Homo sapiens: one gene and its partners. The protein of the gene in region 1 purifies or fractionates together with the protein of each later gene. This does not show direct contact. Each region holds a gene or a part of one and is shown in the gene's direction. Other genes may lie near its edges.

Region 1 (3,500 bases):
TGGGGTTGTACTTGATCATTTTGAAATACAGATTCATGGGTACCCCACTAGACCTACTGAATCCAAATCTCTGGACAACGAGCCTGGGAATCTGCCTTTGATGCCCTCATCAGCCAGTAAATTTTAGGTACCTTTGAGAACTACTGGATCTAAGATTCTTTCTAACTCTCAAGTTCTATAACTTTATTTCTACTTTTTGTGGTAATTACTACTTAATCTATATCTTTTATTGCTTAATCTGGTAAACATTAGGAACAAACATTTCTTAATTTGTGCATTAAGCAATTACCCAAAATCTTTTCCTTTTAAAAATTTGCAGTGTGGCCTGGGCGAAGTGGCTTACTCTGTAATCCTGGCACTTGGGGAGGCCAAGGCAGGCGGATCACTTGAGGTCAGGATTTCGAGACCAGCCCTGCTGTACAAAAAATACAAAAATTTGGCTGGGAGCTGTGGCTCACACCTATAATCCCAGCACTTTGGGAAGCCAAGGCGGGCTGATAACCTGAGGTCAGGAGTTTGAGACCAGCCTGACTAACGTGGTGAAACCCCGTCTCTACTAAAATACAAAATTAGGCCAGTTGCCATGGCTCACGCTTGTAATCCCAGCACTTTGGGAGGCCAAGGTGGGCTGATCACCTGAAGTCAGGAGTTCGAGACCAACCCGGCCAACGTGGTGAAACCCTGTCTCTACTAAAAATACAAAATTAGCCGGGTGTGGTGGCACATGCCTGTAATCCCAGCTACTCGGGAGGCTGAGGCATCGCTTGAACCTGGGAAGCGGAGGTTGTGGTGAGCCGAGGTTGTGCCTTTGCACTCCAGCCTGGGCAACAAGAGCGAAACTCTGTCAAAAAAAAAAAAAAAAGAAAAAAACAAAATTAGCCACGCGTGGTGGTGCATGCCTGTAATCCTAGCTACTCAGGAAGCTGAGGTAGGAGAATCACTTGAACCTGGGAGGCGGAGGTTGCAGTGAGCCGAGATCGTACCACTGCACTCCAGCCTGGGTGACAGGGCGAGACTCCATCTCAAAAAAAAAAAAATTACTATTTTCAAAAGCACTAATATTGGCTGGGCCTGGTGGCTCATACCTGTAATCCTAGCACTTTGGGAGGCCGAGGCTGGTGGATCAACTGACGTTAGGAGTTTGAGACCAGCCTGGCCAACATGGTGAAACCCCATCTCTACTAAAAATACAAAAATTACCCGGGCGTGGTGGCGGGCGCCTATAATCCCAGCTACTTGGGAGGCTGAGGCAGGAGAATCACTTGAACCCAGTAGGCAGAGGTTGCAGTGAGCCAAGATTGTGCCACTTTACTCCAGCCTTGGCAAAAGAGTGAAACTCCATCTCAAAAAACAAAACAAAACAAAAAAACACTGATATGAAAGATTATATGCATGCCTAGAATCACAATGCCCAACACTGTACCTTAACCCTGCCTTGTGCATCAGTAACGTTTAAAATACATTACCCAAATTATCAAGATATAGTGCAAAATGTGTGCAATCATTCACGTCTTAAATGTGTCGACGGTGGACTTGGTGGAAAAATTATGAGACATGATAAAGTATTGTGCCAGAGGCATTGGCCTAAGAATTTTAGATGGAGTTAGGTATTTGGGACAGTTAGGTATTTGATCCACATCTCTTTCTGGAAGGTTAGATGCAAATGGAGGTTGAGAAATTTCAGTTTCTTTCTTTCTTTCTTTCTCTTTCTTTCTTTCTTTCTTTCTTTCTTTCTTTCTTTCTTTTTCTTTCTTTTCTTTCTTTTCTTTCTTTCTTTCTTTCTTTCGACGGAGTTTTGCTCTTGTTGCCCAGGCTGGAGTTCAATGGCAAGATCTCTGCTCACTGCAACCTTCACCTCCCGGGTACAAGTGATTCTTGTGCCTCAGCCTCCTGAGTAGCTGGGATTACAGGCATGCACTACCACACCCAGCTAATTTTGTATTTGTAGTAGAGACGGGGTTTCTCCATGCTGGTCAGGCTGGTCTCGAACTCCCGACCTCAGGTAATCTGCCTGCCTCAGCCTCCCAGAGTGCTGGGATTACAGACGTGAGCCACCGCACCTGGCCAAGAAATTTCAGTTTCTTAAAACCAGATCTCACTTCCCCTTTCTCCTTCAAGACAGTAGTTTGCCCTTATAATTGGTGTCAAAAATGTACATGATCATGTACTTTCATTCTGCCCCAGTAAGTTTAGTGCAAAATAGGAAAATTTAGAACAAAATGTGTTAATGATAAGTGTGAAGGGATGTATAAATATTTGGCCAGTAATCCAAATTCTTCAGTTTTTTGTTTCATTTAGATGAGGAAATAGTTAAGACTTTCTATTATTATTAATCTGTGTTCAGTCTTTGCTTTTGTAAATAAGAATAGTCTGTGAGCAAATCTATGTAATTGTAGTAGACACACCAGGCTAACCTTTTAGGGCAAGCTTTTTTTTTTGTTTTCATTTGAAAAATTAAGAGAAAAAATATTAATCTTCACACAACCCTAACACTTTTTGTTTTGGTATGTTTTCTTCTAATTAAAAAAAAGATGCTTTTTTTTTTTTTTTTTTTTTTGAGACGGAGTCTCGCTTTGTTGCCCAGGTGGGAGTACAGTGGCGTGATCTCGGCTCACGACAACCTCCACCTCCTGGGTTCAAGCGATTCTCCTGCCTCAGCCGCCCGAGTAGCTGGGACTACAGGTGTGCGCCACCATGTCCGGCTAGTTTTTGTATTTTTAGTAGACACGGAGTTTCACTGTGTTGGCCAGGCTGGTCTCGAACTCCTGACCTCGTGATCTGCCCGCCTCAGCCTCCCAAAGTGCTGGGATTACAGGCGTGAGCCACCACGCCTGGCAAAAAAAAAAAAAAAAGCATGTATTTTTATATGGTTGTGATTTTATAATATCTATTAATTATATCTGTTTTTTTTACATAGAATAATATAGTCATGTATATGTGATCTTAATAACTATCATTTTTTCATAATTGTGTGATATTCCATTGAGTGTATTTGTTATTTACTTAATTCATATTGGGAGATGTTTAGGTTGTTTCCGATTTTCTTCTCTAATAAACAATGCCATATTTAATACTTCTGTGCGTATGTCCTGCTTGTTGTTTGATTTATTTCCAAGTTCTTGTTTTGACCTATCTGTAGCATGAGCCAATTTAATCCTTTTTTTTCATCCTTCAAGTACTTTCTTCATTTGGCTTTTAAGATACTATTCTCTCTTGATTTTTCTCCTACCTCACCAGCAACTTTGATAGTTCCTCCTTATGTCCCTGATGGCTAAATGTTGTGTTTCAGGATTCAGTCTTTAGACCTTTTCTCTGTCTGCACCCACCCTCTTGGTGATCTCATCCAGTTTTATGGCTTTAAATAGCATCTAAAGGCGTACAAGTTTCAAATTTATTTCTATCTCAGACTTCTTTCCTTGAAATTCTGTTGCATGTAGCCAACTGTGTATCTGTCGTATCTACTTGGATGTCTGATATTCATCACAAACTTAACCTGTCCA
Region 2 (3,500 bases), on another chromosome or scaffold:
CAGATAGGGAAACTGAGGATCAGAGAAGCACAAGTGTCTGCTAAGGAATATGAAAGAAGTTGGGCAAAAAGCCAGCTACAACCCTTTCCCCCAGCCCCAGAAAGAGAGTTAATTTTTATCTTCGATTGCATCTAACATCCTTCCTTAAGGAACACCTAAGAGCATTTTGTTGTGGCCCCTGCCCTGTACAGCCAGGGCAGCCGTGGTTCTGAAGCTGAGCTCCCTCCCACCCCAAATTGTCTCTGGTCCTTAATTCCAGCCCCTGCAATATGGTGCAAGGTTTACCCGCAGCTGACTCATGCTCTGGCCAGCATCTCTGCTGCCCCTCACAGAAGCAGCGGCAGCAGCTCTGAGTCGTTTGAGGATCTGGGGGATTCCAGCAAAGCCACCATTTGGGATCAGGGTTAGGCTTTTAGCTTGGAGCCCATCTTTTTGGTATCTAAATGCCGTACACCCTTGCTGAAATTTTCCGGACAAATGCCTCCCTTCTCATGGGCCCTTGGTATGTCCCCTCCCCACCAAGTTGACAAAGGCAGCCAGCTTGGGGATGGCCAGAGAGTCTGGGGTCCCAGAGAAGACATAGCCCTCCCTCTCCCTTTTTGCCCATCTTTGAGGCTGTCGTGGCCACAGCTGCTGTCCCAGCAGAGACCCCCAAGCAGCCTTTTCCTCAGAGCAGCTTAATTCACCCCTGTCTTGGGGTTGGAGGCTCAGGAGGGCTGATCCAGGATTGGCATAGCAGGGAGAGCTGCAGGGACAAGCTGGGGGTGGTCGCCAGCTTTTTAGCTTAAATTTAAGATTCTGAGTGACAGGAGAGTCGGGTGCAGAGAATAAGGAGCCTGACGCGGAGGCGCCACGTGCTAATGCCTTGCCGGTGCCGTCCCGTAAAGATAAATCCTCTTTATGTGTCCTTGCACCAAGCCGGGCTTCCATGGAACACCACGGGGTAGTCCATCAACACAACGTTCAGGCTCTTCCTCCTTGATTGATTGCAGTCTCCCCTCCACGAGGGTGTGGGTCTCTCTGAGAGGGGGAAAAAATACGCACATGTGTGGCCTCAGCACGGGGGATTTCCCCTCCCCCCACCCCCTCCAGCCTGCCTTAGCTTGCTGTGTCTCTCACTGGCCCTGGCTTTCTGTTTGGCAGGTACAGCAGCTCAAATTATAGAAAATCAAAGCTGAAGAGTCCCTCAGAGATTGGCCAGGGAAAGACCCTCTTTTTATAAGTAGGGAAACTGAGGCCCAGAATGGGTAGGAGCTGAACTCTGCTGCCACATGGCAGCAGGCCGGATACAGGGCAGGACAGGGGTCCCTTCCTGGCCCCACTGGGGAGCTGGGGTCTCCATCATCAGAGAGCCCCTGACTCAGGCCCTTGTGTTCAGCTCATCCCTGGCTTGCTGAACCTGAATAATGAAGTGTGCGTGATGGAAGGTGTTAAAAGATGGTGGGAATATACCAGTGCTCATGGAAACCTGTGCTGATAGGAGAGCGCTCAATAGTTCTAATTTCCCTGGCTTTAAAAGATGAAGCCTTTTTACCAGGGACCCCTTGAGTTCAGAGCCTGAGTGCAGAAAGAGAGACCACAGGGACACGTGGTAGTGCTGGGGTTAACAGGTTTCTTGATTCCTGACGGAGGGGGGTCGTTACATCTCCATCCCCCCCACTGCCCCTCTTTGATGGAAAAGTATGAAGAGCTGGTGGTTTTTCTGAGGGTTGGGCTGTATTCATCCCCCGGCTGGCCAGGACCCCTCCCCTAACAGGAGAGGGTGGAGATGCAGTCTTGTCTGGTGGAGACAGGCCTTAGGGAATCTCAGCTAGGCACGCTGTTGCAGGGAGGGGCATGATGTCCACAGTGAACGTCACGGACATGTCGCTGGATATGGGGTGACCTGGTGCCAGGCAAAGGGAACAGCTATCCTGGCCTGAATATCAGTGGCCACGACTTTCTGATCTGTGACCTTAGGCAAGGAAACCCCTTCAGCTTCCTGAGCCTCAGCTTACTCACTTCATGGGTTTTTTTGAGGGGGCTCCCTAAACCCTCTTACTCCAGACCCCACTCGGTGGCCATAGAGCCATTTTAAAGCCCACTGGGGCCCGCATCACGCTCGTGTATGGAGAGGAAGCTAAGTTCTCGTCTTCCCCGTCACCCCGCAGATGTTCGGGCCTGCTCCTCGGCCCCCTGTGCCAACAACAGGACCTGCGTGAGCCTGGACGATGGCCTCTATGAATGCTCCTGTGCCCCCGGGTACTCGGGAAAGGACTGCCAGAAAAAGGACGGGCCCTGTGTGATCAACGGGTAAATATCCTTCCTGTGTGTGATCTAATGAATGCTGCTTTTCATGCGGCCACCAAAGACCCTTTCAGCCTAACCCTGCTGGACCTGTCGTCTGACAAAAGATGAAGTAAGCGCTCATCCTGGCAGCCCCGTAGGGGACCGCCCTGGATGGGAGTATTCACGGGGGAATGTGTCATTGCCATAATTTTTTCAAATGATCCTGAAGGCGATTTCATATTCCCCTGATGTTCTCAAGTCCCGATGCGTGTGAGTGACAGTCGATCGGAATGATGAACTGACACTCGGAGCTGCGTAATTTTCTAAAGGCAACGTAGTAAAAGATTGGAGCTCCGCGGGGCTGAGGCTGTTTGTGAAACCCACTTGCTGTATCTCAGGGGGTGGTTTTGGGGAACTGGTGGGCTCTGCAATTGGATTTTCTGGGATGTCTGTGGAGGGAGTTGCCAGGCTGAGAGGTGAAGAGATTGGGCTTCTGCCAGCACGAGAGGAGGTGGGCCAGCTGTCGGCTATCCTCAGTGGGGAAGGGGGCTTTGGGACTCCTGGGCAGCGGACATAACAGACAGAGTGGCCACTGTCTTCACTTGGACCTCCCTGAACAATGCTTCCCAGCAGCTCAGCCTCTGCCCACCCATTATCTCTTTGGCGGCCCTGAGCCATCCCTCCCCGCTGGATGGGGCTTAGCCTGAAGCCAAGGGAGATCTTGACAGAGGCAGGGTCCGAATGTAAGAATCCAAACTTGAACCCAGTCCTGGGCCTGTAGTTGGGGGGCAGGGGTGTCCCTTTCCTCTGAAGAAACAGAAGCTAACATGCAAATAAGCTTATCTTGACCGGACATCGCAGGGTGGCACAGAGACCCCAGTAGTCTGTAAGAGCTGTAAACAGACATTAACGGGGCTTCCAAAGATCAGTCTTCAGACGGGGTCAGAGTGGGGGCTGGTGAAGACTGAACTCCATTTCTGCTTATTAGCAGGAAGGAGAAAAACAGAGCGAGACCTTTAAAATATTTTGCTTTTCTCGCGAATGGACTTAAACCAGTGTGTCAAAATAGAGCCTAAGGCCCTTGAAATTCCTTCAGAGCCCAGCTCCCATGCAGCCCACACCCTGAAGCAGCAGTGCTGATTTCTTGTGTTTACTGCCCCTTCTTCCCCGGAGTTTTGCCATTTATCGGATGACAAAGGGCTCGCTCGTTTAAAAGCACTTACATTAAATGC
Region 3 (3,500 bases), on another chromosome or scaffold:
GTGTAACAGATTCTTTACTACGGTGATTTTTGAAGGGACATTAATGTTATCTATATGTTTGTAGTATGGGGTGTATCTATCATATTAATAGTTTTATTATCTTAATATAAACGTAGATGTTTTTCAGAAGTAACTGTTTTAGAATCTTAGTTTAATAAGATAATTTTATACATTAATTTGTTATATGTAGTGGTTTATCTTGTTCATTTGGTCTTTTAACAAACATTTTAAGAGCAGGATAGCCAACCTTCATATGAAATACTTGTTGAAATATATTTTAATTTCAACCTTTTAAATTCTTCAGGGTTTTTTTTTTTTTTTTTTTTTTAGAACTGAGCAAAATTGTAAGCTCCTGGCTCTTGTTTTGCCCCAGGACTATAATACTACTTTCAGTGTTTTCCTTTTTCTTCAAAATATTTAATAATCAGTGTTCACTGACATTTTATTACATTCTATAAGATTACTCAATATTTATTAAGTACTTGATATTTATTTGCATAATATTAACATTTTAAAAATTAACTTTTGTTTTTGAAACAATTGTAGTCTTCCAGAAAAATTACAAAACTAGTAAGAGTTGCCTTTTGCCCTTTACCCACCTTCTTCAGCTGTTAATATCTTAGCAAGTACAATGATCAAAACCAGAAAATTAACACTAATACGGTAATACTGTATTAACTAATCTATACACCTTATTCAAATTTTATTTATTCAAATTATATGCAGTGGTTATTATTAGTGTCCTACTAGTATTCTTTTTCTCATCCAAGATCACACGTTGCATTTAGTGGTCTCTTCCAATCTGGGTGAGTTCCTCAGTCTTTAGTCAGTGTCAAAGTAATGAAAAACAATCTTGTTATCTCTCAAATTGGGTGTTTCTGCTGCTTTTTCATGATTAAATTCAGATTATGTATTTTCGGCAAGAATATCATAGAAATGATGTTTTGCCCTTGTTAGTGCATCGTACCAGGAGGTACATGGTGTTCGTATGTCTCATTAATTATAGCGTTAACTCGGCTAGGTCACCAGGAATTTTACCAACTGTTGCTTTTGTACCAGCAATGTGATGCCAGTATGAAAAAGATAACTTGTATCTTACATATTATTGTGAAAATACTTTTGACTTCATGAAGTCCCTCAAAGGGTCTTGAGGATTTCCCTAGAGGTTGAAGAATAACACTTTAAAAGTCACTGCCCTGGAGAGAATCTCTATTTGAGCACATAGAAGCTTGTATAAGAATGTTCACAGCAGTTACTATGGTTTTGAGATAAATAAAATTTAAAAAAGAATGTTCACAGCAGTGTTGCATGTAAAAACAGAAAATTGGAAAAAACTTAAATGTACCTTAGCAGGAGACTGGATAAGTTGTATGAATTTGTATAGTGCAGTACTGTATAGAAGAGAATGTTAAGCAAATAAAGTAAGTTGCAAAAGAAAACCTACGGTCTGTTAAAGTGCGGAACAAAACTATTTTAGGGTAGGGTTTTGCAGCCTTGGCACTATTGACATTTTGAATTGGATAGGATAATTTTTTGTTATAGGAATGTCCTGTGCATTGTAGGCAGGCATCCCTGGCCTCTACCCATTAGCAGCAGTAGCACCCCACCTCCTTGTGGCAACCCACAATATCTCCAGACATTGCCAGATGTCCCCTAGTGGGGGCAAAATTGCTCCCAATTGAGACTCATTGGTTTAGGGATATGTACATGCGTGGTAAAAGTATGCCACGTAAAGGTAAGATAAACACTAAATTTAAGAGAGTGGGACATCCTTATGGTGAAGGGAGTGGAGAGCACGATTGGTGGAAGTACACCAGGGGCATTTAAGTATTTTGGTAATGTTCTGTGATTAAACCTACCCCATGGTGAGTGCATAGGTGTTAAACACACACACACACACACACACACACACACACACAAAATTTTATTTTTTTTGAGACAGTCTCCCTCTGTGGTCCAGGCTGGAATGCAGTGGTGTGACCTCGGCTCACTGCAACCTCCGTCCCCCAGGTTCAAGCAATTCTCCTGTCTCATCCTCCTGAGTAGCTGGAATTACAGGCATGCACCACCACACCTGACTAACTTTTGTATTTTTGGTAGAGACGGGGTTTCACCATGTTGGCCAGGCTGGTCTCGAACACCTGACCTCAAGTGATCCATAGCCTCAGCCTCCCAAAGTGCTGGGATTACAAGTGTGAGCCACCACACCCAGCCCTTTCTATATTTTTGTGTGTGTCATATTTTTGTACTTAATTTAAAAAAAAGCCTTATATTTATCAGAGGGAGAACTGAGGTTGCCTTTGATTATTCATCATTTGTTCCCTAGTTCCACCTATATTATATGAATAGAAAATTTATTGCAGTATGATTGGGAATTAAGAAATGGGTAACCTTCAGCATAAGATTCCTTGCAACTTTTCTGGGAGTTAAGGATTCTGGAGTGGTTGGATCATTGTGAATCTTTCTGATACGATTTTTCTCACTACATTTTGAAGATTTTGTCTGGGAGTTGTATGCGGGTCTCTAATATTTTGGCATATCAGCTTTATTTTTTCTTTCAGGACACACATGATATGTTTGAATTTATGGTCTAGGATAGTTAAACTTTGCAGAGAGGAGCATTTAGTATCTGTTTGAGTGATATAACGTCTGTCTTGTTTCGAGATTCATTTGGCTCATTTGTAGTGAGCAAGAAGATTTTGGGACTATATGGGATGTTATTTAATTAGTTTGGACTAATTTTGTAAAGTCTGTAGTCAAGTAGGTATAGTTGACTTTTTATCATCTAGGCACTGATTTTATAGGAGTTGGAGAAAAATGTGTTTTTATTTATGCTTGCTTTGTGTTCACTTGACTACAGTGTTGTATTGTTACCAGAGATAATGGAGAAAATGAATGTAGATTTCCTGTTAAGGTTCTGTCATTCTTCGTGTCGATAATACAGAGTTAGAGGTATAGAAAATCAGCTTTATTCAAAACCAGCTTCTGGTCATAGTTCATTCAAACTGTTTTGGGGGTAGTTCTTTGTCCTTGTCTTTGACCGCTAGCAAAGAATGCCTCTCCAGTCATACGTGGAAAAACTTCTCAGATGTTTTGTATTCAGTTGAAGGTTTAAAAGGGCTGACCCTGGATTAAAAAAATGAAATGAATTAATAATCCTCAGCTTTTCTTTATCAGAATAGAGTCCCCTATTCTGATCTGTTTCTAGAACCACAGTAGAAAGGGGTATTTGTCAGGACACAAAGCCGTAGGAAAAAACAGGATTTGAGGGAACAATGTTTGGGGAGCAGGATGCCACACCTGGAAAGGATGAAATATCACAAAATGTTTTTTATTAATGACATCTGCAAGGAAAACTTTATTTCCTCATAGATCCTACCTATTTTAAAGGCTTCTGTAAAATGTCTTTCTTATTTTATTTCCTCCACTAAAACAATGTTGTAAATTATGAAAGTCTATCTAGTTCTTAATAGTCCCTGTAGATTGCAGCTTGGTTGAGC
Region 4 (3,500 bases), on another chromosome or scaffold:
GCTACACAAAACAGATGTTTAACACAATGTGGAACTAATAGTACACTCTCAAAACTGTCTTATTTCTGAATGAATTTTATAAGCATACTACTCTCCAGCTTTTTTCATTGCTTATAAAATTCATATAAGCATTCCTTCTGGAGGCTCTAGGGGAGACTCCATATCTTGTCTTTTTCAGCTTCTAGAGGCTGCCTATATTTTAAGCGTGAAATTTATAAGCAATGAAAAAAGCTGGAGAGTAGAGTGAGAAGAAGAAATGCATATCGAGGGAACAAGAAAGGGCGAAACGAGATGGGTATTGGTAAAACTATGCCATATTTGCAAGGAAGTTGGAAAATAGTGATAGGCTTTGTGTGCAAGTAAATAGGTGACAAGACTGGAAAAGAGCTTGCAAGTAAGATAGTACTTTATGGATGAAGACTGCCATAGAGAAGAGACACCCAAATTAGAGTATATCGAAGGCTTGCCTTCTTAGGGAGCTATACTGAAGATAGTTTCCCATTAGACCAGTGCTTGTTTTGAATGCATTGTATTGTCCCTTTGAAATGCTCCTTAATTTGACATCATTGAGGACTTGGTGGTGTTTGTGCAGCCAACAGTGCAGAGGACAAGAATAAGGGCAACAACTCAGTGCATCCTGCTTCTGAATGAAAGCATCAAGAATTACACTGCTCATCATCATCAGATTGGGTAACATTTATGGAGCACTAACTCTGTGCCAGGCACTGCTCCTGTGCTTTATATAGATTGTCTCTTTCATTGATTGAATGATTGATTGATTGATTGAGACAGGTTCTTTCTGTCTTATTGCCCAGGCTGGAGTGCAGTGACACAGCCATAGCTCACTGCAGCTTCAAACTCCTGGGCTCAAGTGATCCTCTTGCCTCAGCCTCCAGAGTAGCCAAGATTATAGGCACATAGCACCACACCTGGATAATTTTTAATTTTTTTCTGTAGAGACAGGGTCTCAGTTGCACAGGCTGGTCTTGAACTTCTGGCCTCAAATGATTCTCCAGCATCTGGGCCTCCAAAGAAAGTGCTGGGAATACATATGTAAGCCACCGCACCCCACCTGATCATCTTTTTTTTAGGACAAAAACAACCCTATGAGGAAGATTCTGGATTATCCCAATTTCACAGCATGAGAAAAAGAACTCTGGGGCGCAGAGAAGTGAAGCAACTTGCCCACAGTCACACTAGGTTGAGCCTGAATTTGAGCTCCAGAGCTTTTCTCCTTAGCCACTAGGCTCTCTTACTGCCCAAAGGGTCATGGGGATTAGGTAGCTGCAGGAAAACTTTATGAATAACATATAGGTCATTCTCTGGGGTGTATCTGTTCACCAATAATTAAATAGGAAGCAGAAGGACTCTGGGACTAGTGGAAGAAATAATGTAGGACGGCGGTTCCCAAACTTTCCTGCGCATTAGAATCACATGGGGAACATAAAAATCCAATTCCTAGATTGTACCACAAACCAATTAAAATCAGAATGTCCGGGTGTTGGAAGCTACATATCAGTAATTTTTGATGATTCTCCATGTAACTTTAACGTGTAGCAAAATTTGATAACCACTCTAATAGGAAGATGACAAGAGGAGTGTGTGTGTTTGTTGTGTGTGTACATTTGTGTGTGATATTAAACAAAAGACCAGGATAAAGTGTTCATCTAAAGAGTTGAATGTCTCTATTGGCTAAAACCTTTAAGCACTAGGGGCCTGCGAAAGCATAGCTGGATTTTTTTTTTTGCCAAATTGTACGTGTAGACAAATTGTACGTGTAGTTTAGTTGATGCCTTCTTGTTTATTCTCCTAAACAAGTGATCATTTCCCTACCTAGCCCATTGGTTCTCAAACATAGCTGTATGTTACAATCACCTAGGGAGCTTTAAAACATACATTTGCTGGGCACCACCTCCAGAGCCTATGATTTAATTGCTCTGGGGTAGACCTGAGGTATAGGTATATTATTTTTACTCCCAAAGTGATTATAATATTCAGCCAGGGTTGAGAAACCTCTGCTATGACCCATTCATTGTTGATTGTTACAGACTACTTGAATTCCTATTCTTTGGGGAAGCACCTTTCTTGTTTCTTTTTGAGCAACCCAAGTCCCTGGCTTGCAGTGGAGCCAGGCAGCTTCAGCTCCCCAATCTCCCTAGCATCTGAACCTATCAGCATCACTTTAATCTCTGGGGTTACCTGTTAAGGACCTGGGGCACACAAAAGTGGCAGCAGCTCTGTTCAGTGGGTAAGTTTGTTTCCCCTTTCCTGCCAGCCAGGGTTCCTGGCCACTTTCAAATGTGACACACATTAGGATCAGCTTTCATCCCAAGTTTTTTGTTTGTTTGTTTTGTTTTTAAATTCTTGCTGAGGGCAGCTGCCTCTGTGGCCAGATAGTTTCTTTGGGTCCCAGCTCCTGCTATCCAATGCTAAGTTGAAGGTGAAACAATGATGAGCGCCTCTTGGAAGAGCAGTCCTGGGCTTGTAGCGTCTCTCTTGGTATGTGATGTCTCTGCAGCCAGCTACAGTTTTTTTTTTTTTTCCTACAGATATTTTATCCTTTTAAGGCAAACAGCGTGAGCTCAGGCTGAGGAGTACTTTCCGAGGAGACTTCAGAGAAAGCAGAACTAGCACATCAACCTTTCAGCCCCCTTTCCAGGAGGCTTGGTTTAAGTGGACAGATCTGGGCATTGCTGGCAGTTGAGAGGTCGGAGACGACACCTGCAATAAAAGATCTTGGTGTGTCCCTCATGAAGACTTCCAGGGGAAATGAGAATTCCTAAACCCTGTGGTCAGACCTCACTGCTGCCCCTATTGCCAGCTCTGTGTGTCTTTCCTGCCCTCTGTCCCCTTAGATCCTTGTTACAAAGTCCTCAAGGTGTTGCTAATGGTCTCTGCTAGGAGCCTATTTACATTTGTAATTTAATCATTACCTTCTCAGGTGAGGATCAGCCAATATAGCACTTTATATAAGCAATGAAAATAGCTAATATAATTGCAAATACTTTTTGATAAAAATAATCTTAGAATCGGAGTCAGCAAGGAGCTTTTCTGTCTTTTCCCCACTCCTAAAATATGAAAATGTATTCAGCTGACAGATAGTATGTTAAAACAGAATAGATGTAATAAGGCTACCCGGAGGATTGGGGACATTAATTATGCAGGGAAGTTAATCATAAGTAAAGTAAACACTTTCATTATGAATCCAGCTTCATGGAGTGCATTTGGTTATTGCGCGTAATTGGGGAGGGATAAGAGGAATTAGAAACAATGAAAAACATGACCAAAAACATGTGTTTAATTATTATGACTTAGCAGTTAGAAGCAGAATGATAGGCAGAAGTTGGTGGTAGGACACTGGGAAAATATCTGTGTCTTTGCATTCTTTTATTCCAACCTATGAAAGGATGGGAGTTCATATAAAAAGAAGAAATTAGTGACAATTTACTACCAAGATATACTACTTTCACCTGCATCAAAAATAAAATAATGTTAATTAC
Region 5 (3,500 bases), on another chromosome or scaffold:
GCAGGGCAGGGGAATGGCTGTGACTTGGGACCCCTGGGTTGTGGTCAGTCCTTGGTGCTGGGGTGTGGCAGGCCACAGAGACCCCAGTGCCTCCTGATGGTGCCCCTCTCTTCCGACCCAGCATTTGAAGTGCACCATCACGGGCCTGACCTTCTGGGACCCCAGCTGTGAGGCAGAGGACAGGGGTGACAAGTTTGTCTTGCGCAGTGCTTACTCCAGCTGTGGCATGCAGGTGTCAGCAAGTATGATCAGCAATGAGGTAAGAGCTGGGGCCAAAAAGGTATCAGGACCAGCCTGGTTGGTGCCCCCTCAGGTGCCCTCCCTGATCCCCCAGGGTGGAGGTGTGTTTGGGAGAGCAGGCTGCAGGGGCTCAGAACACAAGACAAGCTTGGCCATTGGTTGGCTTAGTCTCCCCATCTGCAAAAATGGGCGTATTGGGTGGGATACCCTCTGGGGTCCTTTCTGGCTCTGACCAGCTCCCTGGCTTTATCCCCGCAGGCGGTGGTCAATATCCTGTCGAGCTCATCACCACAGCGGGTGAGATGGACAGTCACGTGCTAACCCACCTGGCCCAGGGGCTGCTGCTGGGCCGGGGCCTCTTCCTGGCCTGGGAGGGAGCAGGCCTCGGGAAACTCCTGGCAAGCCATGTGTGTCTGGAATGCCTCGGTCTCCCCTTCTGTATGACCGGAGCAGGACTGCTGAGGGTGACGCTCTTGGTCTCTCAAGTCAGAGGGCTTAGCACATACTGGCTGTGTGGCCTTGGGCAAGTCACTTTAGTTTTCTGGGCCCAAAGGTGGCCTAAGAAAGGACTCTGCGCCACAGGGTGCTTCTGGGCAGCCAATGAGGTGCTGTGTGGAAGCTCTTCACACAGCCTGGCAGCTGGTGCCTCCTTGATAAATATTAGTTTAAAAAAAAAAAAAAGGGCCGGGCGCAGTGGCTCACGCCTGTAATCGCAGCACTTTGGGAGGCCGAGGCGGGCAGATCACGAGGTGAAGAGATTGAGACCATCCTGGCTAACATGGTGAAACCCCGTATCTACTAAAAATACAAAAAATTAGCCGGGCGTGGTGGCGGGCACCTGTAATCCCAGCTACTTGGGAGGCTGAGGTAGGAGAATGGCATGAACCCGGGAGGCGGAGCTTGCAGTGAGCTGAGATCGCACCACTGCACTCCAGCCTGGGCGACAGAGCGAGACTCCGTCTCAAAAAAAAAAAAAAAGAGAGTCAGGCAACTCCACAGGGCCATGATGCCTGTTCCTCCCCACACCCCTCGCCCTCCTGGCTGGCGCCGCCAGATTGACCAAGTCTCCCTCCCGTCCTCCCCCAGAAAAAGGTGCACTGCCTCAACATGGACAGCCTCTCTTTCCAGCTGGGCCTCTACCTCAGCCCACACTTCCTCCAGGCCTCCAACACCATCGAGCCGGGGCAGCAGAGCTTTGTGCAGGTACCTGGCATGCCTGTCACCCCTCGGGCCTCCCAGCTCCTGGAACTTCCTCTCCGCCTTTCTTCCCACCATGACTCCAGAGGAGATGAGACTCCCAGAGTCAGGAGGGAGACAGCCTGGGTGCACGGGAGAGGGAGAGACAGAGAAGGCATTGCTCAGGGACACTGACAAGGATGTGGCCCTGTCCTCCTCCTCTGCCCCAGACAGGTCCATGTCTTTCTTTCCACTGTGAGGACTCAGGGGTGGGAACTCTTAATTCTAGCCGATATTTGAAGGCAGCAGGTGGGGTGGGGTGAAGAGCAGCTGCCCATGCCGCGTGGCCCTACCTACCCATGCAGGTCAGAGTGTCCCCATCCGTCTCCGAGTTCCTGCTCCAGTTAGACAGCTGCCACCTGGACTTGGGGCCTGAGGGAGGCACCGTGGAACTCATCCAGGGCCGGGCGGCCAAGGGCAACTGTGTGAGCCTGCTGTCCCCAAGCCCCGAGGGTGACCCGCGCTTCAGCTTCCTCCTCCACTTCTACACAGTACCCATACCCAAAACCGGCACCCTCAGCTGCACGGTAGCCCTGCGTCCCAAGACCGGGTCTCAAGACCAGGTGAGTGGGGCCTGGGCCGGCCCCAGCTTCAAGTGGGAGCTTCCAGGTCTGTGGTTTGCAGGAAGGGACATGGCAGCCCACAGGGATGTGGGGCCAGCTGGTGAGGGGCGGAGCCTTAATCAGGCATGTGGCCTGGCAGTCTGGCTGCCAGCAGCACTTTCTGCCACCCGAGAGCTTTCTGGTGGGACTGCTGTGTCTGGGGCACTGGCAGACTATGCAGCTGCCACTGTCCATCTATCCATCCATCCATCCTTTCACTTACCCGTCCGTCCATCCATCCATCCACCCTCCCACCCAGGAATCTAACCACCCGCACATCCATGTAGTATGGTCACCAGTGTAATCTCAAAGAACAGGAGACCTGAGGGAAGAGAGGCGGACAAAGGACACACACTCCTGGCTTTCTGTATTTGCCAGTCACAACACTTCACCATCTGGTGACCCCCACTCTCAGGCAATCTATCCTGGACGCCCCCAGAGTCACCCCCAGGCCCTTGCACAGACAGGCCTCCAGGATTACAAACTTCTCTGGTCATAGGAAGCTAGGGAAGCCTTCAACTCCCCTAAGTGGGCCTCTCCCTCCAGCCAGAGTGAGCCTGGGACTCTGGGCTGACCTGGCTCATAGCTCCAAAGTGTTCACAAGGGTGAGGGATGCATAGTGCTTCCACAGTGCTCCTGGGCATCAAGGCCTCCAGGAACTCACAGGAAACATTTCAGCAGCAGCCAGGGATCGTCCACTAGGCACCCTCCCACAGCACAGATCTTCCAGGACTCACCCAGAGGCATCCAGCTACGAAGCGGTGGAGATGGGATTCAAAGCCAAGGCTCTAGGGTGGGCTGGGGTCACGGAGCCAGGGAGTAAACCTGGAAGCCGCCTCCCAAAGGTGCCACATACTGCTCTCTCTTTCTCCTCCAGGAAGTCCATAGGACTGTCTTCATGCGCTTGAACATCATCAGCCCTGACCTGTCTGGTGAGCTCCCTCCAGGTCTCTCGGGTTTGTTCTAGTGGCTGAGGTCACAGTAGGGCACAGCGGGCAGCCCTGAGAAACGGCCTGGGCACATAGCACATGGCAAGGGGGACCCCAGAGAAAGCGGCCCAGAAGGGGCAGGAGGAGGGCTTCCCAGAGCCATAGCAGCCTAGAGCAGGGGCCAGAGCTGCACTTTGCAGATGGAGAGCCCTTGCCCGGGACCGCCCTGTGGGGTGGGAGTCTAGGCCTCTGCCCCCACTCACGGCTCCACTCCATCCCCACAGTTATTGGCTGACCTTGCTGGGAGGATGGAGTCTCCTGGGTGAGACAGAGGCCCTTTGAGGGTGGGTGCTGGCCTTGCCTTCCTTGAGGCCTCTCCCTGCAGGACGCCCCCTCTAGCCTCTCCATCAGTTCCCCCCAGGCCCAGGCCCACACCAGGCAGAAGAGTCCCGACACTGGTGGCAGAGGCAGGGGTGAGGGATGGGGGCACCTA
Region 6 (4,288 bases), on another chromosome or scaffold:
AGAGCTGGGCTAAGCTTCAGAGGGAAGTGGCCCCTGGGAGGGGGAATGGCTGGGGTTAAGACCCTGGGTTCCCACGCCCCCAAAACAGAAGTAGAATTAGGGAGAAAGGACCCCCAAGACCAAGGACGGCACCTATCAGAGGAGCTCTCCACGGGCAGGAGGTGTCCCAGGGTGAGGGTGGCCAGGACAGGTCTAGGGAAATGCAGGTGGAGCAGGACCCAGAGATGGATTGGAGATGCCGGAGGGGAGGCTTCCTAGCGGGAGCGGAGACAGGCACTGCAGACAAGTGTCAGCGGGAGGGGCTCTGGGTGGGGAAGAAGACTGGGACTTGGAGGAAGACCTCTCCAGGGAGAAGGGAGGAGGGGGAAGGAGAAGGGGAGGAAGTGGGAGGAGGAGAGTGCTCATCCTGGAAGCCACAGCCTCGGAGAGAACTTTCTAGAAGGAAGGCATGACCATCAGTGTCCCAGGATGCTGAGAGGCCAGGAAAGGTGAGGCCTCAAGGCGCCATGGGGTTGTGGTGACCCCAAGATCACTGGGCACAGAGCAGGGATGGCTGGGGGTGGAAGGGGAGGGGCGCGGGCTGAGGTTCTAGGGCCCCAAAGCCAGGTGTGATGTGGCTCTAGGGGGAGTGAGGAAGGGGAGAATGTCCCTCTGAGCGTGCCTCTTGGGGAAGGCAGGGGTTCTGGCTGGGGCTTCTCCACTCCCAGGAAAGGAGGTGGTGTGGAAGGAGCGGGTGGGACGGAGGAGAGAGCGCCCCGCGGCCGCAGGACCAGCAGGTGGGGGACCAGGGTCAGCGCTGCTGGAGGGGCCTTAGCGCGACAGGACTGGCCAGAGACCGGGGATGTGGCACAGAAAGAGTTAAAGGGCACCCCAGGGACCGCCCTGCCGGTCCACCCATGTCACCCATGTTGGCCCCTACTCCAGCCCCCGTCTGCTCTGCAGGGGAAGGAACCGGGAGCCGCGGTGGGGGCGACTGGGGGTGTCGGTCTTTCCAGAAAATCAGGCAGGCATCAGGAAAGAAGGGGCGAGAACCCGGGGACGCGAGAGGAAGGGGGCGAGGGGGCGCCCAGGGAGGCGGAGGGAGCGAGAGGAAGGGGGGCTGAGCCACGGCCCCCACGCCCGCGCGCCCCTCCGCGTCCCAGGGCGTCCCCTCCCGGAGCTGGGACCCACCGCGACCACCACCTGCTGGGCCAGGGTCCGCGGGCTCAGGGGTCTGCAGGATTAGGGTCTGCGGAACCAGGACCCGTGGGACAAAGGTCTGTGGGGCGCGGGTCCGCGGGGTGGAATTCAGCGCGCCGAGTCTGCGTATGGCCGGGGTACGAGGCGCTCCCTGCGCAGGGTGGGCAGGACCGAAGCTCGCCGGGAGGCTGCGCGGAGGGCGGGCGGGGACCCTCGGCTGCCGCTCCCACCCCCGCGGGGCCGCCCCCGAGCCCGCCCTCCGCCGCCGCCCTCGCCCTGCGTCGCCGCCGGAAAGTTTGCACCGACCCCGATCTGGCAGCGCCGCGAAGACGAGCGGTCACCGGCGCCCGACCCGAGCGCGCCCAGAGGACGGCGGGGAGCCAAGCCGACCCCCGAGCAGCGCCGCGCGGTGAGCACCTGGGCCGCGGCCCCGAGGGGACGTTGGGGAGTCGACCCGGTGGGGACAGAGACCGCGGGGCGGGCGCGGCGGGGCCGGGGGCGCGGGGAGCGGGGAGCCGGCCGGGCGGTCTCCGGGGTCCGGGCTGGTGCGCTCCTCAGTCCCGTCAGACACCCCCGTTCCCAACCCCGGCTCGGACACCACCCGGTCCTGCACCGTCGGGCAGGTCCAGGGGTCTCAGCCCCTCCCCCGTTCTCTGGTCCTGGGGGGCGCGGCTGGGGGCGGGGGTGTCGCTGGCCGCCTGGCGCCCTGCGGCGGCCACACTGCAGCGGCCACACTCCCCACTCAGGGCCCCGGGCCCCGCCGCCCTGGGGAGCGCACAAAGCGCCGCGGACGCGTCCCCGAGGCGCGGGGTCTCACCAGCGCTGTCTCCCCTCGGTGGGCTCCTGCCCCGAGGACTGCCCGGTGGCACCGGCGCGGCCCAGGATGGGGTGAGGGGTGTCTGCGCCCCGCCTGGCCGCTCCTCTTCCGCGGCCCACACTGGCGACTTTGACCCCGGCAAGCGGGTCACTGCCCTGCCCGGCTCCGGCCCCCCCGGCGCCCCACCACCCGGCCGACTCGGCCACCGGGCTTATGCTCCGACTCTGAACCGACTGACCCCGGCCCCCTCGGCGCCCGCATCCTCCAAGGACCGGCCAGGGCTGCTCTCTGCCCTTGGTATTGGGGACATCAGGGTTGGGGGGTCTGGGTGCACCCACGCCTGCCCCGCCCCCACGGGGTGAGGGCGCAGGGATAGGGCTTTGTCAACAGCCTGTGGCCCCTGATCCCGCCCCGGTGCCCTGACCTTCCACTACCTTCTCTGGTTTCACAAAAACATCCCGGCTCCCATCCCGGAGCTCCTCAAAGCGTCTGAGAGGCCCCTTGCGGACGCCCTGGGAGCCCCGCTGCCTTCCTGGACCAGTGGCCGCTCCACCCATCCTGGGGGCCCAGCTCCAGGTCTGCGGGTCCCTCAGCCGCCCCCAGTGGGAATCGGTGGAGCCTGACGCAGCCAGGAGCGCCCAAGAGTCACGTGTTCTGCCAGGGAGGACATGGGACAGGACACGGGGTGCCAGCCCTGCAAAGCGGCCGGGGCAGTGGAGCTCAGGTGGCCCTAAGCCCTGGTGGTGGCTGGTGTGGCCCGGCAGGCAGCTGTGGGAGGGAGGAAGGGGGTGGCATGCGGTGGGGGTCTAGAGAAGGCGGGCAGGGCACCTCGGGAGCCCCCCCATTGGGCACCTCGGGAACCCCCCACATTGGGCACCTCGGGAACCCTCCCATTGGGCACCTCGGGAACCCCCCACATTGGGCACCTCGGGAACCCCCGCATTGGGCACCTCGGGAACCCTCCCATTGGGCACCTCGGGAACCCCCCTATTGGGCACCTCGGGAACCCCCACATTGGGCACCTCGGGAACCCCCCCTATTGGGCACCTTGGGAACCCCTCCCCTAATTCTCAGCTGACTCCAAGGCCTGAGAAGGAGCTTGGTCACCTGGACTGTGAAGGTGGAGGGTGGGGTCCCTGGTGGGTCGTCCCACCTACCAGCTGTGTCGCCGGAAGGGTAATACGGAGCACTGTGGCCCCGGGGAGCCCCGAGTGGCAGCTCCACAGCTGGGAGTTTCTGTCCACTCCTTCAGTCAACAAACATTGATCCTGGGCTGACCGGGGCCCGGGGGTGTCAGTGTCTCCTCTCGGGGGAGAGGGCTGGGTGAGATCAACAGAGGAGCCTCCCTTCTTCCCTTCAGGCTGGTGTCACCTTCAGTGATGGGGCAGGGTCCCCACTTGGGAAGTTAAATCGTCGTCCCCGTCCCAGGACCACAGCAGCCTCAGCCCTGCTCTCCAGGCCAGGCTCTCTCATGGGTGCTCAGCTGGAAATTGGTCCCCCCCCGGCTCCACCCACCCCTGTTGGGGTGAGGAGCTGGAGTCTCCCTACCCATATGGGACCCACCACCCGCAGGGAACGGAGGACGCTCACACTTCTGCACCTCCTGCCTCACTATCAGAGACCCAGTGGAGAATTGCCTCCCACCTCACCTCTTGTATTCAGAGGCCCTGACCCCTAGGGATCCGGGACTAGGGGTGCCCTATGGGGAGCCCACCTGTGGCCTGTGGATGCTGAGCTGTCGGGGGAATCCTCCAGGATCCCCAGCCCCACCTTCCCAACCTTCTGTTGAGGCTGAGGGGACACAGAGCCCCACTCCTGGGTCCTGACTGTTTCAAAGAAAGGCCTGGGGGACTGGGCAGCCAACCCCTCCCTCGGCTCGCTGGGGTCTCCAGACTGGCTGCCCGGCTGGAAGGTGGGGCCCTGGCACGCGAGGACCTCATGTGTGGAGGCACTGGCTTGGGGGGTGCTCCCAGTGGCTCTAGAGTCAACATGACAGGCATCGAATGGCTCCTGTTTCTCTGGCAGAGTTGGGGCAGAGCCAGGCTTGGCCACGCTGGGCTCTAAGGGGCTGTCATTTTGCCCAGGGAGCTCCTGGCTGGGTGGTCCTCCCCCCAGGGTGAGCACGCGTCCCCCCCCACCCCCACTTCGAGGCGCCCAGGCAGGGAACAGCTCATTGGCCAGTGTCCTTCCTCCTTGTCCCCCGCCTGCATCTCCACCATCCACCCTGCTCCAGCTGCCCCTTGTCCCTCTCCCCGTCCCCTGCCCAGAGCCCCAGGTCTCCCCTGCACCCCT
Region 7 (3,500 bases), on another chromosome or scaffold:
GTTTTTGTCTCTGGTCCAAAATCTTTAGCCAATGGCTTGGCAGTAAAATCCTGAGGGAAGCTGTTGACCAGGTGAGGTGATGTGCAAATCCTATACTCTCTGGGCTCTGGGATATTTAATTTACTATTTATTTATTTATTTTCAAGACAGAGTTTTGCTCTTGTCGCCCAGGCTGGAGTGCAGTGATGGGATCTCAGCTCACTGCACCCTCCACCTCCTGGGTTCAAGCGATTCTCCTTCCTCAGCCTCCTGAGTAGCTGGTATTACAGGCGCCCACCACCACACCTGGCTATTTTTTGTATTTTTAGTAGAGACGGGGTTTCACCATGTTGGCCAGGCTGGTCTTGAACTACTGACCTCAGGTTATCCGCCTGCCTCGGCCTCCCGAAGTACTGGGATTACAGGCATCAGCCACCATGCCCGGCCTAATTTACTTTTTATTAATGCTGAAGCAGAGAGGGCAAGATCTTTTGCCCCTGAGTTCTTCTGGGAAAAATGAAACTGATGGTAAAACAAACTAAAGCAACCTGACATTCTCAGTTGGTCCAGTTTCAGCCCTTTGACTGGGAGTCACAGACGGGTCCCATAAAATGGTAGAGCTGGGCCAGCCTACCATTGATTTATTTTCCCTAAATGAAAAATACAAGGCCCAGAGAGGGCAAGTGACTTGTCCAGAGTCACCCAGCAGGTTTGGGGCAAAGCTGAGACTCGTTACTTGACATCCTAAGGTCTTCCAGAGGCTAATGATTAGCTTGTTTGTGCTCAAAAAATGAAGCAGCCTGGGCGCGGTGGCTCATGCTTGTAATCCTAGCACTTTGGGAGGCTGAGGCAGGCAGATCGCTTGAGCTCAGGAGTTTGAGACCAGCCTGGGCCACAAAGTGAGACCCCTGTCTCTACAAAAAAATGCAAGAATTAAAAAATTAGCTGGGTGTTCTGGTGCGTGCCTGTGATCCCAGCTACTTGGGAGGCTGAGGTGGGAGAATGGCTTGAGCCTGGGAGGCAGAGTTTGCAGAAAGCAGAGATCGCGCCACTTCACTCTAGCCTGGGCAACAGAGCCAGACCCTGTCTCAAAAAAAAAGAATGAAGCAGTTGTTGGTCAGGACAGGACTGTAAACAAGGCTGACACACTCAGATGTGTCAAACATCGCTAATGCCAAAGGTGACAGAGTCATTTGTTTTCATCCAAACATTCGAGAAAGTTGGACGAGGTGACTCACGCCTGTCATCCTAGAGCTTTGGGAAGCCAAGGCAGGAGGATCATTTGAGATCAGGAGTTTGAGACCAGCCTAGGCAAAATAGCAAGACCCCCATCTCTACAAAAAATAAGCCGGGCATAGTGGCCCACACCTGAGGTGGGAGGATCCCTTGAGCCCATGAGTTTGAGCCTGCAGTAAGCTATGATTGCACCACTGCACTCCACCCTGGGCATATAGTGAGACCCTTCCCCCAACCAAAAACATTGAGAGCAGCTCTTGATGAGTGAACTGTACTTCGTGGTCAGCAGTTCTGGGTAGTAATTTCAGAGATGTCCTTTCAGCCCTTGGAGCTGATGCAGGACCTTAAACATGAGCGATGGTGGAGGAGGGAGGGTTGGGAAGGTGCATCAAGGTAGATGAAGAGTGTCCCTGGGGTTGGGCCAACTGGCGGTCCGTCTCTGGTCCAGTGTGTTCACCTTGCCCCCGTCTGATCTTCTGCAGTTGGTATTCCGAGTTGAGTTTGACTAAGTGAGAGCTGCTCTCAGCTTTAACTGCCTTTCCCAAGACAGCCCTTGTTTTTATTCTAAAGCTGTGGTTCTCAACTGGAAGCAGTTTTGCCACCCCAGGGGACATCTAGCAGTGTCTGGAGACATTTTTGATTGTCATGAGTGGAGGAAGGGGTGCTACTGGCATCAGGTGGGCAGAGACCAGGGATGCTGCGGAACATCCCACAATGCACGGAAGAGCTCCCCTCACGACACAGAATGACGCAGCCCAAGAGTCACAGTGCAGAGTTTGTGGCCAGCTGCGGTGGCTCACGCCTGTAATCCCAGCACTTTGGGGGGCCAAGGTGGGAGGATTGCTTGAGGCCTGGAGTTCAAGACCAGCCTGGCCAATATGGTGAAACCTCATCTCTACTAAAAATACAAAAATTAGCCAGGCATGGTAGCGCATGCCTGTAGTCCCAGCTACTTGGGAGGCTGAGGCACGAGAATCACTTGAACCCAGAAACGTGGAGGTTGCAGTGAGCTGAGATTGCGTCACTGCACTCCAGCCTGGGTAACAGAGCGAGACTCTGTGTCAAAAAAAAAAAAAAAAAAAAAAGACTTAGCAACTATTATTACTAGTATTAGTATTATTAATTTGTCAGGCTCACTGAATTTTCTCAAAAATTTGGCAAATTTTTAGGAAAACATTCTCAAAACATTTGGCAAATCTGTGGCTAAATGTTGTTTTGGGGACCCAAGGCTCGTAGGAGCAAAACAGCTTTCAGGTTTCCGGATCTGCCAGAGACTCAAGTGTCCTGTTGTGTGTTTTGTGTCTCAATGAGGGAAAGGGGAATATGTAGCACCTTCCAGATGGATTTGACCTTGACTGCGCCACTGTTTGAAGAGCTTCTCAACCTCCGCAGCTCCACCCCAGCCCAGATATTTCAGGGAATTAGGGTTCCAAGGGGCATGCTATGGAAAACACCATTCTAGCATGAGTCGAAGCTTCTCATCCCCCATCTTGCTGTCTTTTGACCAAAGCAGATTTTGCACGTCGTAACTGTCAGAGACATCAAAGCCAGAGGGAATCCAGCCTGCTCCAAGCTCTCCTTTTTTGTACAGAGACTGAATCTTTGCACTTGATCTTGTTTGTGTTTTTAAGTCTGAGGTTAGACAGGGTCCCAGGCAATGGAGGCGTGCGTGTCCTTTTATTTTTCTGTTGTAGCTTTTGCTATTTTTTCTGACTTTTAAGGCAACTCATCCACATGGCAATTAGGAAGAGCCCACTTAGGGCTGGGCACAGCGGCTCATGCCTGTAATCCCAGCACTTTGGGAGACCGAGGCAGGCAGATCACTTGAGGTCAGGAGTTCAAGACCTCAGCCTGGACAACATGGTGAAACCCCGTCTCTACAAAGAATACAGGAAAATAGCTGGGCATGGTGGCAGGTGCCTGTGGTCCCAACTATTTGGGAGGCTGGGGTGGGAGGATCACTTGAGCCTGGGAGGCGGAGGTTGCCGTGAGCTGAGGTCATGCCACTGCACTCCAGCCTGGGCGACAGAGCAAGACCCTGTCTCAGAAAAAAAAAAAAAAAAAAAAGAAGTCCACTTTACTTGTCATAGTGCTTAGAACAAATGAAACACTCTCCTAGCCCTCTTGGGATGTAATTGGCTACCATCTGCACAAACTCTTCATTATTGCACAAGAATATCAATATACTTAATGCTACTGAACTGTGTTTAAGTGGCCGAGGTGGTGAATGTTAGCTGTATTTTACCACAATTAAAGATAAGAGGGAAGGAAAATGAAGTGTACTT

Evidence for each region.
Region 2: the proteins of BMPR2 (region 1) and DLK1 purify together in Homo sapiens (co-immunoprecipitation; one large-scale study listed by IntAct). This does not show direct contact.
Region 3: the proteins of BMPR2 (region 1) and MIB1 purify together in Homo sapiens (affinity purification with mass spectrometry; one large-scale study listed by BioGRID and IntAct). This does not show direct contact.
Region 4: the proteins of BMPR2 (region 1) and PRKG1 purify together in Homo sapiens (co-immunoprecipitation; one study listed by IntAct). This does not show direct contact.
Region 5: the proteins of BMPR2 (region 1) and ENG purify together in Homo sapiens (affinity purification with western blotting, with the first as the bait; one study listed by BioGRID). This does not show direct contact.
Region 6: the proteins of BMPR2 (region 1) and GCGR purify together in Homo sapiens (affinity purification with mass spectrometry, with the first as the bait; one large-scale study listed by BioGRID). This does not show direct contact.
Region 7: the proteins of BMPR2 (region 1) and MYH11 purify together in Homo sapiens (affinity purification with mass spectrometry; one large-scale study listed by BioGRID and IntAct). This does not show direct contact.

The regions. Positions count from the first base shown.
Region 1 is NC_000002.12:202,382,827-202,386,326, forward strand, and holds part of BMPR2 (bone morphogenetic protein receptor type-2 precursor), read left to right. Parts: intron 1-3,500. UniProt on the Homo sapiens protein: On ligand binding, forms a receptor complex consisting of two type II and two type I transmembrane serine/threonine kinases.
Region 2 is NC_000014.9:100,729,892-100,733,391, forward strand, and holds part of DLK1 (protein delta homolog 1 isoform 1 preproprotein), read left to right. Parts: intron 1-2,150; coding exon 2,151-2,292; intron 2,293-3,500. UniProt on the Homo sapiens protein: May have a role in neuroendocrine differentiation.
Region 3 is NC_000018.10:21,743,792-21,747,291, forward strand, and holds part of MIB1 (E3 ubiquitin-protein ligase MIB1), read left to right. Parts: intron 1-3,500. UniProt on the Homo sapiens protein: E3 ubiquitin-protein ligase that mediates ubiquitination of Delta receptors, which act as ligands of Notch proteins.
Region 4 is NC_000010.11:51,080,987-51,084,486, forward strand, and holds part of PRKG1 (cGMP-dependent protein kinase 1), read left to right. Parts: intron 1-3,500. UniProt on the Homo sapiens protein: Serine/threonine protein kinase that acts as a key mediator of the nitric oxide (NO)/cGMP signaling pathway. GMP binding activates PRKG1, which phosphorylates serines and threonines on many cellular proteins.
Region 5 is NC_000009.12:127,816,659-127,820,158, reverse strand, and holds part of ENG (endoglin isoform 1 precursor), read left to right. Parts: intron 1-121; coding exon 122-259; intron 260-498; coding exon 499-537; intron 538-1,326; coding exon 1,327-1,443; intron 1,444-1,447; exon of another isoform or gene 1,448-1,559; intron 1,560-1,769; exon of another isoform or gene 1,770-1,781; coding exon 1,782-2,039; intron 2,040-2,301; exon of another isoform or gene 2,302-2,400; intron 2,401-2,815; exon of another isoform or gene 2,816-2,955; coding exon 2,956-3,010; exon of another isoform or gene 3,011-3,500. UniProt on the Homo sapiens protein: Vascular endothelium glycoprotein that plays an important role in the regulation of angiogenesis. Required for normal structure and integrity of adult vasculature. Regulates the migration of vascular endothelial cells.
Region 6 is NC_000017.11:81,802,662-81,806,949, forward strand, and holds the start of GCGR (glucagon receptor precursor), read left to right. Parts: upstream 1-1,488; 5' UTR 1,489-1,588; intron 1,589-1,996; exon of another isoform or gene 1,997-2,084; intron 2,085-2,488; exon of another isoform or gene 2,489-2,572; intron 2,573-4,288.
Region 7 is NC_000016.10:15,847,029-15,850,528, reverse strand, and holds part of MYH11 (myosin-11), read left to right. Parts: intron 1-3,500. UniProt on the Homo sapiens protein: Muscle contraction.